Regions from separate parts of the Homo sapiens genome. Here all the other regions are linked to region 2. The links come from fine-mapping of genetic effects on gene expression. A gene starts in region 2. Each other region holds a variant in brackets. All regions are shown on one strand. Distances are from middle to middle.

Region 1 (5,227 bases), 100 kb after region 2:
CTGACCAACATGGAGAAACCCCGTCTCTATTAAAAATACAAAATTAGCCACGTGTGGTGTCGCATGCCTCTAATCCCAGCTACTCGGGAGGCTGAGGCAGAAGAATCGCTTGAACCCGGGAGGTGGAGATTGTGGTGAGCTGAGGCTGCACCATTGCACTCCAGCCTGGGCAACAGGAGCAAAACTCCATCTCAAACAAAACAAAACAAAACAAAAAATTGTAGTACTTATTTACTACTTTTTAAGAATATTTCTGATAACATTTAATGATGAGGTATATATTAATGCCCCAGTTATTCTTAAAATGTATTATCGAATGAAGTTGAGAGTAAAACATTAATACTAGGAAACTTATTTCCATGTGCTTTGAAATTAGATACTTTTTAAAAATTACAGGTTTCTAGGCTGAGCACAACGGCTCACGCCTGTAATCCCAGCACTTTGGGAGGCCAAGGCAGGTTGATCAGTTGAGCCCAGGAGTTTGAGACCAGCCTAGCCAACATGGCAAAACCCCATCTCTACTAAAAATACAAAAAATTAGCTGGGCTTGGTGGCGCACGCCTGTAATCTCAGCTACTTAGGAGGCCGAGACATGAGAATCACTTGAACCTGGGAGGTGGAGGTTGCAGTGAGCCGAGATTGGACCACTGCACTTCATCCAGCCTGGGCAATAGAGAGAGACTCCATCTCAGACAAAAAAAAAAAAAAATTATAGGTTTCTGTATTATTATTTCTGGGGCAGAATACAATAACATAACATCATATAATACCACACTGTGTGAGTAAAAGTAACTTAGTAGTTTCTCTCTCTTCCTCTTCCCCCCCGCTTTCATTCCTTCCTTCCTGTTTCTTCTTTCTTTATTCCTCATTCATACACACATATATATATACAAGTCATTTAAGGGGGAAGATAGAAGTAAAAGAGCATTTGAAAGCAGTAGGAGAGTAGTATTTTGGTGTTCTTATTATTCCTATATTAACAGTCTATATTAGTCTTAATGCCAAATATCTCTGTTTTAGATAATCTACCCAAATGTACTAAACTTGCAAAATAATTATGTGAGAGAGTTCTTATGGCAGTATATAAGTTTGCTAGATATGTCTTAAAACTTCCTTTGATTAGTAATAATTATTAGACACATCTGGTGAATTTACTTTCTGAGTCCTGATCAAGTAAGGGAGCTGACAATTTTCAGTTTGTTACGCTAGCTTGTTTGAATCCAAAAAATGGTGTATGCCATATGCTCTAGCATTTATATTTTGTTTTGTTTTTTCTTTCTAAACAAAATGCATCTTCCACTTTTAGTGTACTCGACAGATTATCTCTGAGAAGCTAGGCCGTGGCTCAAGAACTGTGGACCTTGAACTTGAAGCTCAGATTGATATATTAAGGGATAACAAGAAAAAATATGAAAATATTTTAAAACTGGCTCAAACATTGTCGACCCAGCTTTTCCAGATGGTACATACCCAAAGGCAACTTGGAGATGCATTTGCTGACCTGAGTTTGAAGTCACTAGAACTTCATGTAAGATTATTCTAAATAACTATTAGGGATGGGAGAAAATGATAATAGAAGTATTCTAAGAGGTAATTTGTTATTGTGATTTGCTGAACTCTTAATGAAGATGGAATTCTGAGATTCTCTTTTAAGATATTTCATATCACTTTAAGAAGGCCCTCTTAAAGTGATATGACTTCTGTTAACTTTACTTTTTATGAATTATCATATGTATATAAATCTTTCATATTTTTCTTCCTGTTTGTTAATATTTTATTTTGCCTTTTACTCCTTAATCAATATCAAGGGTTACTGTTGTAATATGTTCTGTTAACTTTTTCTAAAAGTTGTAAAAATGTTGTTTTCTGTATTATTCTATTTCCAGTAACATTTATGTAGACTTCAGTGAAGTGTGTAACTTAGCTTGTGGAAATTTGGTGCCAAAAATCTTAAGCTGTCCTGCTTTTCATTTTAGTTTTTACATGCATTGATTGGTAATCTTTTTATGTGGTCCTTTATCTGCCAATATTTGCAACAAATCAAGGTCTATAATATTTTGAAGACTGAGTACAGAGTGGAGTTACATGGACATCTCTTAAATGGAAAATGGTTTTAGCATAATAAGGATAATTTTACTTTCCTGCTATTTTCTGAATTATTGAATACTTTGTCACCTAAGAAACGTAATTACAGCTATTGCAATAGCATTAAATTTGTATCTTCTAATATTTTAGTTAATTTAATATTACATTATTTGTTTCAACTGAAATTGAAAAGTGTTTTGTAACAAACTGGAGAATTATCAAATTAAATGATACATCTTAGAATATGTGATCGGTTTTTTATTTGGTTAGGTGCATCCTGATTAATCTGTTAATTAGTAAAACTTGCACTGGAAAGCTTTCACTGCTGAATATACAGAGCTAGAGTTAGTTCTTGCCATATCTGAAGGAGTCATGTGTAATGTTTACTGCACCAAGATGCAGTTTATTCAAAAAGAATGAACTAAAGCTGGTGTTGAGTGATCCTTCCTCAGTTGTGTGCCTAAATAGAGCTGAGCTTGGGAGTCAGCTAGTCACCAAGTTTACAAAGAAATATGTATTGTTAATATTTATACTTTGAGGAGAATCAGTCAAAACACAAAAAAAATGCACTTTGTTTTATGTCTGAAAGTTTTAACCAATTATTACCTAATTTGGCTGTGAAAGTTATAGTTT[C/T]TCTGATTAATAATCTGCTCTATTTTTCTTTCCAACAGCTGTGCTTATAGTATAATAGAAACAAAATGTAGAAATGAAAATATTGTTTCTACTACAAAGTAACTTAAAAAAATTATTTAGCTTTTAGGTATGTATCTGAGCTGATGACAATTTTGGTTTATTAGACTTTTTCAGTAATTATATGGCTAGCTGTGATTTCGATTCTTAAAGACGGAAAGGAAAAGTAAAACTGCTACAGCTAGATCTCTATCTAAATCACATATTTTCCCATTAGTGACGTGCTTGAGATTTTTAAGTCACTTTTACTGATTTATTACTGAATAAATTAAGGTGACTTCTTTGTTTTAGGAAGAATTTGGCTATAATGCCGATACCCAGAAACTGCTGGCTAAAAATGGAGAGACTCTTCTTGGGGCCATTAATTTTTTCATTGCTAGTGTGAACACTTTGGTGAATAAAACCATTGAAGATACATTAATGACTGTGAAACAGTATGAAAGTGCCAGGTAAGGTATACATTTTCACTGTGTTGTCTGTTTTACAGATGGCATATAATTCAGTTAATTTTTTGGTTACAAACAACAGAAACCAACTCTGGCCAATATGGGCAGGAAAAAAATGTACTGGAAAGTTATAGGATGCCTCTACAGACCTGGCAGAAAGGGAGAGAACAAGATTCTGGAAACAACCAAGAACCAAAGCCAAGTTAAGCCTCAGAAGAATCTAATTAGAACCCCTATGCTGGGTGCCTCTAGTACTTGATGCTGCCACAGCTACCATAAATAATTTCCTAAATACCCATGAATACTTGCTTCATTGCCTTGAGATTATCTAATTGAGCCTTGGTCATGTGCCCAAACCCTGCCTTCTAGTGAGTAGGGAAATGGAGGATCTCCCAGCTCTGGCTTCTTTAGAAGAGGACAGGGCCCTATGTTCTACCAGGTAGGTATTACATGGTCCTCTATACTCTCGCCTAAATTTACCTTTCATCCTTATTACCACTGCTTCCACAATAGCCAGACCCATACTTTCAGTTTCTATTGAATAAATAAGCTCATTTTGCCTCCATGATTTTTGTTTGTTAGGATATCAGTCATCTTCCATTTATCCAGATTATAACAAGCCTTCAAACCCTTTCAAATTTTACCTTTTATATAAATTAAATATTTGACTTGTATTTTGATAACTGTTCATAATGCAGTGTTTTTATACATCCTATTTTAATGGGTTTTTGTATATCCATATTCATATATATATGTATATATACAGTTTCCCTGTCTCATAACTATCCTGTTAAATGGTGAACAAAATATATATTAATAAATATATTAATAAATATTTTGAAGGGTCTAAAATATGGCAGACCTATAATAGCCTTTTTCACCTTTTGATTCCAGGCCCAATTTTTTCCCCATATGCCCTACCCCTTTTATTTAAGTATCATTCTAGTCCCTTTTGAGGTTTTTTTCTTTTGAGCACTCAAAATTCTTATTTTCCATTATACTTTTTATGCATAGTTGAAGATAAACTTTACCTTTTAGAAGGATAACTTTACTCTTTGGCCTCTTATCCTAGTTTAATGGTATGAGAAATACCTGTAAAAAACTCCAAACTCATCTAGTATTTTTGCAATTGAGTGCTTATTAAATATATATTTCCTTACACTTCAATTAAGTAAAAGCCCAAATCATTTTGAAAAGTTAATTTTTGATGTTTTCACAGGAAGAGATGCTTCTGTCCCATACCATGTTTATTTTGTCATTTTCCATTTAGTATTAAAGTATGAGATTCTTATTGACTTGAAAATGAAGGTCAAACAGCTGTGGTTGTATGGAGGGGTAAGGGTGAGGATAGCTGTTAGTAAGATAGCCTTCCGTGGAAATCTCTTCAATAACATTCTCAGTAATTGGTGTTTCAGTCTCAGTGTAAATCCTTTCATGGAAATTATATTTTTCAAAGGGTTCATTATGTATATGAATTTTAAAATTCATTTATATAAGTTTTACTTGATCCTTTTCTAAATTTTTCTGTTCCTTGTTCATAATGTCCTAATTTGTTCATAATGGTACTGTTTCTTTTATCTCTAATCATTTTAAATATTCATATTTTCTAGTCCTTCTGATTGTTTTAACATGTATGGGTTTTAAAGATGGATATTGTTTTCTTCCAAAAATACCCCCACCACCTCCTAGTTGAGAACTTTGTGAATCTAGTTTCTCTACTTTGCAATTGTCTACCTATCCTGAAATATATTTTCGTTAATAATAATCTCTTTCCCTTCAGCTTTTATTTCTAAACAGTTTATAATTAATTTGTAGAGGAGAAAACACTCTAGAGGTTAAATGGTTTGCTCACTTGTAGTCAATTTCAAAGGCAAAATAAGAACCCATTGGTTCTCTATGGTTCACATTTTATCAGTAGGCCTTATACCTGAGTATTAGTGCCCTAAGTATAATGTGGTATAAGATCTCAGATTATAAAATACAGTATATAGGTTCATTTGGAACTT
Region 2 (5,227 bases):
TAAGGAAAAATAGGAAAACATTTCTGCTGATAAGAATAGACAATAAAGCATGGAAGAGGGAAATATGCACTTTGAAGCATATTAAACATTTCTTTGCAACTAAAGTTTCATATCTATGTCTATATTGGTATTTATACCTATCTCTATTAGTTGGCTAAATTAGCACTTTTCCTTCAGGTATATAAGAGAGTGCTCATTTGCAAGATTGAGGCCAGATCTTGGTAAGCCTTTAATGCCAGGATAAAGAATTAGACTTCATTGAGTATGCCACAAATGCCATTCAGGGCTACTAGAGTTCCCCACAAGCCCAATGAATAAATAGCACCTGATTTTTCAAAAGCCAAATAAACAGCCAATAGCAGTGCAAAGTTAAATGAGTAGATAATCTCCATGTCATAAGTATATATGGAAGGCAGCTATTCCCTTTTTTCTTACCTCTCTAAAAATAAATGACAATTCAGAGAAAAGTAGTAATCTTCTATTCTAAACAAAATGAGCAGGCAGGGTCCCCCAAGTTTTAGGGCAAAGGAAGAAAGGAAGAAAAGAAGGGAGGGAGGGAGGAAGGAAGGAAGAAAAAAAGGAAGGAAGGAGGGGAGAAAGGAAAAAAGGAAGGAAGGGAGGGAGGGAGGGAAGGAGGAAAGAAAAAGAGGAAGAAGGAAGGAAGGAGAAGGGAGGGAGACAAGAAGGAAAGGAGGAAAGAAAAAGAGGAAGGAGGGAAAAAAGGAAGAGAGGGAGAGAGGGAAGAGAAAACAAGTCTCCTCTAAGCAGGGCCAGGCTTAAAATGATGTTTTTCAGTTAGTACCAAAAATATTCCCCAATCCAAAGAACGCTGGTTTGCTGCTTCCATTGTCTCAAAGGATGTATAGAATTCCACTATTTTCCATCACCAGCTGAAGTAGTTTCTAGTGTTTTCTTGGAGCCAGACTACATTCTAATTTCCTTCAGGGCAGTGGAAATCATGGAAAGATTAATCCTGTGTATATATAGCCTTGCACAGCGTAATACTGTGGATGAGGATTAATCGTACACAGTACCAGAATTCACTGAAGAGTATCTAACTTGGTTAGCATCTTCACCAAGCAGAAGTTAGCATTAGTTCCAAATCCATCTGAATCTCCATCAAAACCATCAGCAGCTGCCAAGGAAACTATGAACAAACTAAAGCAAGTCTTCACCTTTCCAAAATAAGAAACACTTCAGAGTCTGACAGTCTAATAGTTAGACTAACTTTAGTCAAGCTAAGCATCTCCAAACTCAAGAGACAGCTAGCAGGAATCTTTAAGATAACAGCCAGCAAAAACAATTTAGTATTCATTGTCCACATCATTCAAGCACCGCTGAGTCCTACCGTACACTTCCTCCAAGTCACCCTTCTGAAACCCTAGGAACAACACTTGTACTTAGCTGCAAGTTCTGTAGTTGCTCAGTTCCTACACAATTACAGCAGTAATTAATTTAGATTGGGATTATTTTCTTATAATTGAGAAGACTAATGGTCTCCAAACCAACAAGATGGCTTTGTACAGAAAAATCCACAGTAAGCTATAACAATTGAAGTTACAGTTTGAGTGGGTTGGCATATATATTTGCTCCTTTCTTTTGTTTAAGACAGAACCACTTAAGATAAGAGATTTATGTTTTGGAATTTCAGTACTATTTTTTTAAGAGGTGGTATCCTAGAGAGCTCAATCAATATTGTTATACATTGGAAACATTTATGGTGCCATAGGTGTTTACTATTCACAGATCTGGGGAAGATACCTGCCAGGGATATTTCACTACACTGAAACTCCCTGGAAATCTGTAGAGGTAGAGCTCTGCCTTTGGGCATTAGTCATTAAAAATATCTTGTCAGCTACTGTGACAAGTAAAGGCAGCTGAGAAGTACGGTCTAAAGAAGGGTAAATCTCGCCGTGTGCACAGTTACCCTTCGCATTTCTACAAGTGAAATGGGAGTAAAAATGAGCATTCAAAGCTGTCAAAGGAAAAGCAGTCCAGCAGTTCGAAGGGATATTCTGTGATGGACCAACTGTATGGTACAGTGTGTAAATGAACTTCAGGTCTATCTAGCGCCACGGGGGAGCCACGCTTTCGCACCACTGAGCTCTGGGGATGGGGAGAGTAGTGCAGGTTGGGGCCCCGTTTAGGAAACTACGAAGGGCTCTGAGAGAGCGAATTGTTCAGCAGTTTCCGTGACAGAACAATGATCTATTTAAGAAGTAATGGGGCAAGCAAAGAAAGCAGAGCTCGGTCATCCGGAAAAAGAAAGAGGAGCCGGAAAGAAAAGTATCAAGGAATCTACTGTGAGAGAGCGAGCAAAAAGCAAAAAGCGATCACAAATCCAGAGCAAGTAAGAGCTCAGGGATGCCGGGCCCGGGGGTCTAGCCTTTCTGAAGGGAGAGGGCTCCCCAGGCACGGGGGCAGCGCGAGGCAGCGCCCGCATTCCGTCTGCTGCCTTATCTTCGCATTCTCCCTACCACCCCCACCTTCCCCCCGGGACTGGAATAACCTTCTTCGTGCTCTCCGGTGGCTGAGAAAGCAGCTTTCGCTCTTCTGTGGTAGCGTGGAGGTGAGGTACATCTACCTCCACCCTCCCGGCACCAGCTCACGGTCTGTTGGGGGGGTCCTCCTAACGTGTGAGGCTAGGGTGTGTGAATGAAAAAGAGGGAGGCGGAGGCCTCCTGGAGACCTTCGACCTCTCAAGACCAGGCAGGGGCGCCCTTCCGCAAGCTCCCAGCTCTAGCCGGTGCCTCTGGCCCCGCGCGCATTAGGTCGCTGCCAGAAAATTACCCGGGCAACGACACCGCCGGAGTCCCGGATGTGGTTGCTAGGGCAGCAGAGGGAGGGGCGTAGCCCGCCTCCCGGAGAAGGGCGGAGGGATCCTCGTGGGAGGTGCGCTGACACCACCGAGACGTGGCCGGGCAAGGCCGGATTGAGGGAGAGAGAGGCCGTCCAGGGCCAGGGACAACGCTACTTCCGGTCTCCTCACTTCCGGCTTCGCTGCTCTTGGTTCTGGTTCTGGAGGCTGGGTTGAGAGGTCGCCGGTCCGACTGTCCTCGGCGGTTGGTCAGTGTGAATTTGTGACAGCTGCAGTTGCTCCCCGCCCCCGAGCAGCCGAGGTGCGTGGGGGAAGGGGAAGAAGGAAAAGGTCCGGGTCGCGTTTCCGCTCAGTTTTTGCCAGGGTTGAGGCGATTCCAGAGAGCGGCGGAAAGGATAAGCCTCGACTTAGAAGCTACCGAGTTACCCTAAGAAAGGTGAGGGCGGAGCTGGCTCGCCTGGGAAAAGGCGGGGGAAAGATGGTTTGAGGTGGCTGGTGGGGCGGGCACGTTGCCTACGGGTTCACCGTTCCGAACTTTCACAGGGCACGCCTCTCCTTAGTCTGTGCCGTATCTGCCCAAGTGTTATGCCTTTGGTTTCTTCTGTCCTTCATTCCTTCTGTCCCTCTGAGTGTGCCCCCGAAACAGTCGAGTGAAGGTGTAGGACCGGCCCTTGCAGGGAGGCACTCTCTTGGCTTTGCATACATTGGGTGGGAAAAGGAGTTGCAGGATCCAGAATCCGGACCTTTCTTGACAAAGTGTCGGAGTGGGCCACCTTCAGGCTTGCTGTCCAACCCTCATTTCTCCCCTCTTCTCCCTGCATCCCCAGCTTCCTCTCTCCCGCAGTGGGAGGAAGGGAGATAGTGACAGTCCCTCTGAGAGATTCATCTGGCAGTGGTGCAGAGAGGAGTCTTGCCTGTGAAATGTCCCAAGCCTGACTAAGGAATGCTGGAGTTTTGGAAAGGGAGTTGTTCGATTGTCTTCTGCTCCGTTCCTGTTTGCCAAGTTACTACTGTTTACGTGTCTAGGAAAAGGAAATAATTTTTTAAAAACAGTTTTTAGATGCTAGACGTTTTTCCCTTTTACTTTATTTTGTTATTACTTCCTTTGTTTTGTTCTTACCTTCCTCTTGAGCCCTTTGATTTCAAAAAGTTTACACTTTATACTTCCTGCAGATCCTTTGGCCACTCTTAGGATTTCTGTCCCCCGCCCCTACCCTGTTTTCTCCTAAAGTATAAAATTCATCTAACTACATTATTATTTGATAAGGAAAAGCCGGAAGAGATCCAGAACTTCGCATAAACTTTTGCTTTCATACTTTCACCTGTAAGGGTGTGTTCATGTTTGCCATTTAATTAACTTAATTGGCATAGAAATGTGCACCAGAAATGGTTACCTTAAGTCAGCCGTCTGTTAAGGCTTCAGGAATTGGCCTTTTCTTTTTTCTTTTTTTTTTTTTTTTTTTGAGACAGAGTCTCACTCTGTCGCCCAGGCTGGAGTGCATTGGCACGATCTCGGCTCACCGCAACGTCCACCTCCCAGGCTCAAGCTTTTCTCCTGTCTCAGCCTTCTGAGTAGCTGGGTTTACAGGTAGGCGCCACTACCGCCTAGCTAATTTTTGTATTTTTAGTAGAGACGGGGTTTCACCGTGTTGGCCAGGCTGGTCTCAAACTCCTGACCTCAAATGATCCTCCCTCCTCGGCCTCCCAAAGTGTTGGGATTACAGGCGTGAGCCACCGCGCCCGGCCGAATTGGCCATTTCATTGCTGTTCTCTCAGAGCGGCTACAGATTACTATATTTTACTGCTGCCTTAATTCTGCTTTTCTTTCGTTTGTCCTGTGGTGTTTTTTGTTTTGTTTTCCTTGCTTAGCATGACCCACGTCTTCTCCCAACTACCAAGTCTAACACACTTTTATCTGAGAAAAGAGAAAAGATTTCTAATGTATTTTGTGGATTAAATCCCTGCCTCAGTTACTTTAGTTTCTTTCCAAATTGATAAACTGGTTTTCCTTGGATTATGATTTGCCTTAATCCTGGATGATGACTTGGGGTTCATGGCCTAAGGGTCAACAACTTTCAGGGGTCTTCCTCATTCCCACCCCTGAAATTATATGCAGTTTTGTTTGAGTGAATTTTTTTCCCCCCTGGGGAAAGTGTCCATTGTTTTTATCAAATTCTCAAAGGAGATATACAGCCTCTTGATAGATTAAAACCACCACTTAGGCAGTGTCTTGTTGAAGTTAGTGAAAACAGGTTTTGTGTGTGTATGTGTGTGTGTGTTTTCCACTTAGGCAGTATCTTGTTGAAGTTAGTGAAAACAGGTGTGTATGTGTGTGTGCTTTCCCAAACTGTGCAAAGGAGATATATAGCTTCTTGATAGATTAAAACCACCACTTAGGCAGTGTCTTGT
Region 3 (5,227 bases), 170 kb after region 2:
AAGAAAATGGTTATGGACCAGGCATGGTGGCTGAAACCTGTAATCTCAGCACTTCTGGAGGCCAAGACAGGAGGATAGCTTGCGGCCAGGAATTCAACACTAGCCTGGGCAACATAGTGAGACCTCATCTCCACAAAAAAATGTCTTAAAAATTATCCAGGTGTGACAGCATGCATCCCTAGTCCTAGCTACTCAGGAGGCTGATGCAGAAGGATTGCTTGAGCCCAGGAGTTTGAGGCTGCAGTGAGCTATGATCACACCACCGCACTCCAGCCTAGGTGACAGAGCAAGACCCTGTCTCTAAAAAAATAAATAAATAAAAAGTTATGATGGCAATTGTTATTTGTATTTTACCACAACTGAAAAAAAGTTTCTTCTTCCTTCAAAGGATATGGGAGGCAGATTTTGTAGTGGATTGATGAAGTGAATTGAAACTACAAAAGTTGTAGTAGAATAAACTAGAAGAGCTGATTTGGAGGTTTTAGCAAGAGTGATGGTGTAGCCACATGTCTCACTGAGTGGCATAGTGCTGCTGACTGTTTCAGTGGGTATCAGCACAACCCTGGCCCCCTGGCAGTTGCGGGGAAACTGTGAGTAGAGCCCAGGCCCCCTTCGCATCCTAGCAGGAAATCCTTGAAATGTTGAAATGAGTTGAGTGCGTTAATTACCTCATTACCTTATATTTCAAGCTGCCTTGTTTGCCACTCTTTGGTAGGAATTTTGGGGGAAGAGGTAACGAACTCTGCAGTATGCTGACTGTACCCGTGGCACCGACTTCTGTGGCGGTCCTGCCTGCATGTCCTGGTGTGACCAGAGGAGTAATTACCGGTTGATCGGAGCTGGTGGGAGGGAGGGGATGATGCAGCTCACTCATTGGCTGGGTTTGTTTATCCCTCTTCTTTGGGCAGTTTCTTGCCTCTGATTTGTCAGCTTGTGCAGCCAGTGAGTCCCACTGGGATCCCATGTGCAGATTCCACTGCTCTGAATGATTCCAAAACACCACCCAACCCGACCCGACTTTGTTTCTGAATGGCCCAGCTTTGAGAGAGCAAGCATTTGGGAAGTGAGATAAGCTAATTTACATGTGCAGTGATAACCCTCTTTAAAGGACTTCAACAGTCACCCTTATAACATTGCTTTGGAAGGATCGAATGCGATAAAGTGGAGAAAGAGACTCCTCAGACACCAGGCAAATCTGAGGATGCCGGGAGCGAGTGGGACTGTCCCTGAATGATATCAGTTGTCTCATTTTAATGTTGTTTGGGTGAAGTGCTGGGCTCTGTTTTTCCTGTAAGGTGCTCAGTCACAGCCAGCTCGGGTTTTCCCTTAGGAATATCACCCAATTCTCTTTGTTTCTGAAACACAGCTTGAGCTGTAGAGACGCCTGCTTCTACAGCTGGGCTGCCCCTGTGTTGGGGCACCGTGGGCTGCTCCTGTAGGGCCAGGGCTCAGGCCCCTGGAGGCTCTCTTGCCTGGGGAGAACATGATTCCCATCTGTCATCTCTCAGATACAGCTCTGGGGTCACCAGGGGACTTGGCCAGGCACACGTATAGCTTCTTACACATCTGTCCCCATTCCTGGAGAAAACTCACAATGCAAGCACCATGCTGGTAGGGAACGTTTGCTACGTCTCTATAGGAAGCTCAGTAATGTGAAAACCCACAGAAACTAGAGTGAAAAGGAGTCAGAGAGAACCAGGCTAACCTATCAGTTCAACACTGCTCTGGGAAAGTTATAAAATGATGTCTATGAGGCTTAGTTTCCTTACCTGTCCAGTAGAGATCATAAGAGTAATTTTCTCCTTCACTTTTCCTGCAGCAATGTCTCCGGATCTAGGCTGAGTGAAGAGAGTCCCAGAGGGTTGAGGGGTGAACAGGATGAGCGTGGGGCTTGGTTCACGTGGGGTGTGGGAGAGCACTGCAGTCAAGGGTTGAATGTAGCAGAAGGTGGCACTTTCATGAAAGGAATACGAAACAAGTCATTTATCCATCCTAGGTGAATGCAGAGGAAGTTCTTTGAACGTGCTGTGTAACTATATCAACATACAGATTCTTATGCATGGCCTTTTAATTTATTAATTCTAATGAACCCAGTTTTCTGTCTTAATAAATCGAGATTCCTTTTTTGGTATGACCTTTTAAAGGGTGTTGAGTTTGACAGGTTTTATTCTCACCCTTTCTTTCTCTCCTCTCCTCCCTTTACACTGAACTTGAACTGCAGTCCCCAGATAGGATTCCAATAAGGAGGCCGCCCTTTCAGCTTGGGAGTTTTTACCTTATGGCTGGCAGGTGATTGTGTTAACATGAAATAAACCCCTAGGTTAGTAAATAATGTGACTGTTAAAGATTAGTCTTCAAAAGAAGGCAACCATACTCTTGTAAAAATTTAACCTTATAGCCAGGAAGTGACATTAACGTTGGTT[AAC/A]AGTCTCGCTGCTGGTTATCAACTCAGAAGCAGACCCAGAGATCAGGAATTTAGCCTGAAACCTGATTCTCTTTTGTTCACAGTGAATCACATACATTTGGAAAGGAAGAGCATTATAACAACATTCCTATTTTAGCTAGTCTCCCGTTACCAAAAAACAAACGGGAAAAAACTGCAGCAGTTTTCAGGTTATCTTTCCTCCACGCAGCCGGGATGTTTACATCCAGAGACAGAAATGGCTTCTGTATTTAACAGCCAAAAAAAGTTCTCATTTCTAGTCTGATAAAGCCACCTGAAATTTTGATCAGTGAAAACCTGCTACAGCTCAATCTGGGTTTTGACAGAATAGCTATCCCATATTTCATTAAATAAAAAGATGCCATGTATTGTAAGGCACATCCTGATTCCAGAGATCAGAAAAATGCAAAAACAAACAAACAAACAAACAAAAAAGTATCTTATCCTTGGTGAAATGTATACAGCACAAGATTTTTCGTTTTAAAATTGTGAGTAAACAAAATGTAGGACACTACCTTACACCCTCCTAAAAGGTCTGTTGGACATATGTAAACTTTTTGAATGAAATGAAATTTTTCTTTTAGAAAAAAATTTAATGATGTTTCCGAAATATGACTTTATTGGTTCTTTTACGTCCATAAATCAGGGTTGGGACTCAATCTGCCTTATCTTCAGAGTTGTTTTTTATTTTCTCAGTTCAAATCTCACGCGATTCTTGTTAGGCCAAGACATCCATTTCTAAATTGGGGCTTTTAAATGTGGGTGATATTATTCTAAGAGGAAATTGCTAAATTTAAAACATTTAAAGTGTATATTTACAGTCCTCCCTCCATGACTGCAGATTTTGCATCCTCAAATTCAACCAACCATGAATCAAAAATATTCAGAAAAAAGTAGAAAATAACAATACAACAATAAAAAATAATACAAATTTAAAAATACAGTATAACAACCCCTTACATAACATAATTTACATTGTCTTAGGTATTACAAGTAATCTAGAGATGGTTTAAAGTATGCAGGAGGTTGTGCATAGATTATATGCAAAATACTATGCAATTTTATGTAAGACTTGAGCATCGTTAGATTTTGGTATCCCCAGGGGTCCTGGAACTAATCCCCTGTGATACTAAAGGATGACTGACTTTACAGATACTTCTCAACTTACGATGGGGCTGCATCCTAAAAACCCATTTGTTAAGTCAAAAATATTCTAAGTTGAAAATGTGGCTGGGCACAGTGACTCATGGCTGTAATCCCAGCACTTTGAGAGGCCGAGGCAGGTGGATCACTTGAGGTCAACAGTTCAAGACCAGCCTGGACAACATGGTGAAACTCCATCTCTACAAAACATACAAAATTTAGCCGGGCATAGTGGTGCATGCCTGTAGTCCCAGCTGCCCTCGGGAGGCTGAGGCAGGAGAATCACTTGAACCCGGTAGGCAGAGGTTGCAGTGAGCCAAGATGGTGCCACTGCACTCCAGCCTGGGCAACGGAGCGAGACTCTGTCTCCAAAAAAAAAAAGAAAGAAAATGCATTTCATATCCCACTAAACTCATAGTAAACTTGAAAAATCATAAGTTGAACCATCATAGGTCGGGACCATCTGTATATTAAAAGTTATATAATATTAAAGTAGGTATGTGTTATTATTACATTTAAGGAAATATAATACCACTGTAGAAAGTTTGGGGAGATGATAATCTTTTAATATTTGTAAAACTATGTTAGGAATATCTGTTAATCACCAGATTTATACATTGGGAATTATTCTCTGATAAATTAGTGTTGCATTTTGATCGGTTTTAATTATCTTCTTTCTCCATCTCTTTTTATTTGAATTTAGTAATCCTATGTGTCCTTATTTTTTTTTCCAGATTACTATTTTGGATGCAAAACGGAGCATGAACATTGGGATATTTCTTAAGCAATTTAAGAAGTAAGATTTTGCACACATTTGAAACTTTAGTCATATCCCTGCTGTCAGCATCAAAGTCTGTGGGTGTGACTGAGCTGGAATTCAAATTCCTCACACCTTCAAATCCTTCTTAGACGCATGGCTTGATGAGCCTGCAAGTGACTGTCACTTTCTGCTGTTTTTCTTCAGGGAAACATAACATAGTGGCTTGAAGTATATGGAGAATTGCCCCAGGGCATCCATTCAAGCCTGTCCCATCAGGGACACCTTCAGAGTCACCTTTAGTGTTGCCCCTTCAGTGGAGGTTGGACTGATGAGTCAAATAGCGGTCAGAGTTTTGTGTTCTGAAGTATAAGGAGAAGGTTGTGCAGGGGTTTCAGTGAGACCAAAGAGGATTATTTTTCTCACAACAAAAGAGACTCCCAGTGGTTGTTGCTGCTTTCAGCCTTTTTGGGATGCCCAAGGATGGTGCTCTGGGTGAAGGGCCCTTGAGTGGAGTGTTGGGTTCCCTGTTTTGAGGCAGTGGGGCTGTTATGAGCACTCACACAAAACTGCCAGCCAGTCTGGGAAGGAGGTGGGTGGGAAGGAGGGTGGAGGAGATTTAATTTCCACTGGCTTGCACCTCTGTTGGCACTCCAGCAAACGTGAAATGGAATGTGATTCATTGTCTTTTCAAGGTCTCCTCGGTCCATTGTAGAAGATATTCATCAAGGAAAAAGTGAGCATTATGGATCAGAGACCTTGCGAGAATTTCTTAAGTTTTTGCCAGAGTCAGAAGAGGTAAGAAATTCAGCGCATGAGTTGTAGATGTTAGGAGTGATCATAAAAGCTTAATATTTTTAAGTGTGTCAAAGCTCACATGGAAG

The links. PIP is the estimated chance that this variant, and not a neighbour inherited with it, causes the effect.
Region 1: its variant is the best candidate, but not a certain one, in a credible set for the expression of ARFIP1 in whole blood (INTERVAL, PIP 0.72).
Region 3: its variant is the best candidate, but not a certain one, in a credible set for the expression of ARFIP1 in subcutaneous fat (GTEx, PIP 0.60).

The regions. Positions count from the first base shown.
Region 1 is chr4:152,879,657-152,884,883 of GRCh38, forward strand. ARFIP1 (ARF interacting protein 1) reads left to right here. Exons shown (of 9, transcript NM_001025595.3): 6 at 1,307-1,528; 7 at 3,067-3,224. Among named protein-coding and RNA genes, the nearest start is that of FHDC1, 54 kb to the right of the region's middle. The variant C/T (reference allele first, on the strand shown) is at 2,719.
Region 2 is chr4:152,776,973-152,782,199 of GRCh38, forward strand. ARFIP1 (ARF interacting protein 1) reads left to right here and starts at 2,982. Exons shown (of 9, transcript NM_001025595.3): 1 at 2,982-3,254. It overlaps TIGD4 (tigger transposable element derived 4), which reads right to left and starts at 2,758. Exons shown (of 2, transcript NM_145720.4): 1 at 2,510-2,758. RefSeq lists enhancers at 2,200-2,409, 2,860-3,019, 3,210-3,259.
Region 3 is chr4:152,949,179-152,954,405 of GRCh38, forward strand. FHDC1 (FH2 domain containing 1) reads left to right here. Exons shown (of 12, transcript NM_001371116.1): 3 at 4,321-4,382; 4 at 5,039-5,141. Among named protein-coding and RNA genes, the nearest start is that of FHDC1, 15 kb to the left of the region's middle. RefSeq lists an enhancer at 739-1,033. The variant AAC/A (reference allele first, on the strand shown) is at 2,424.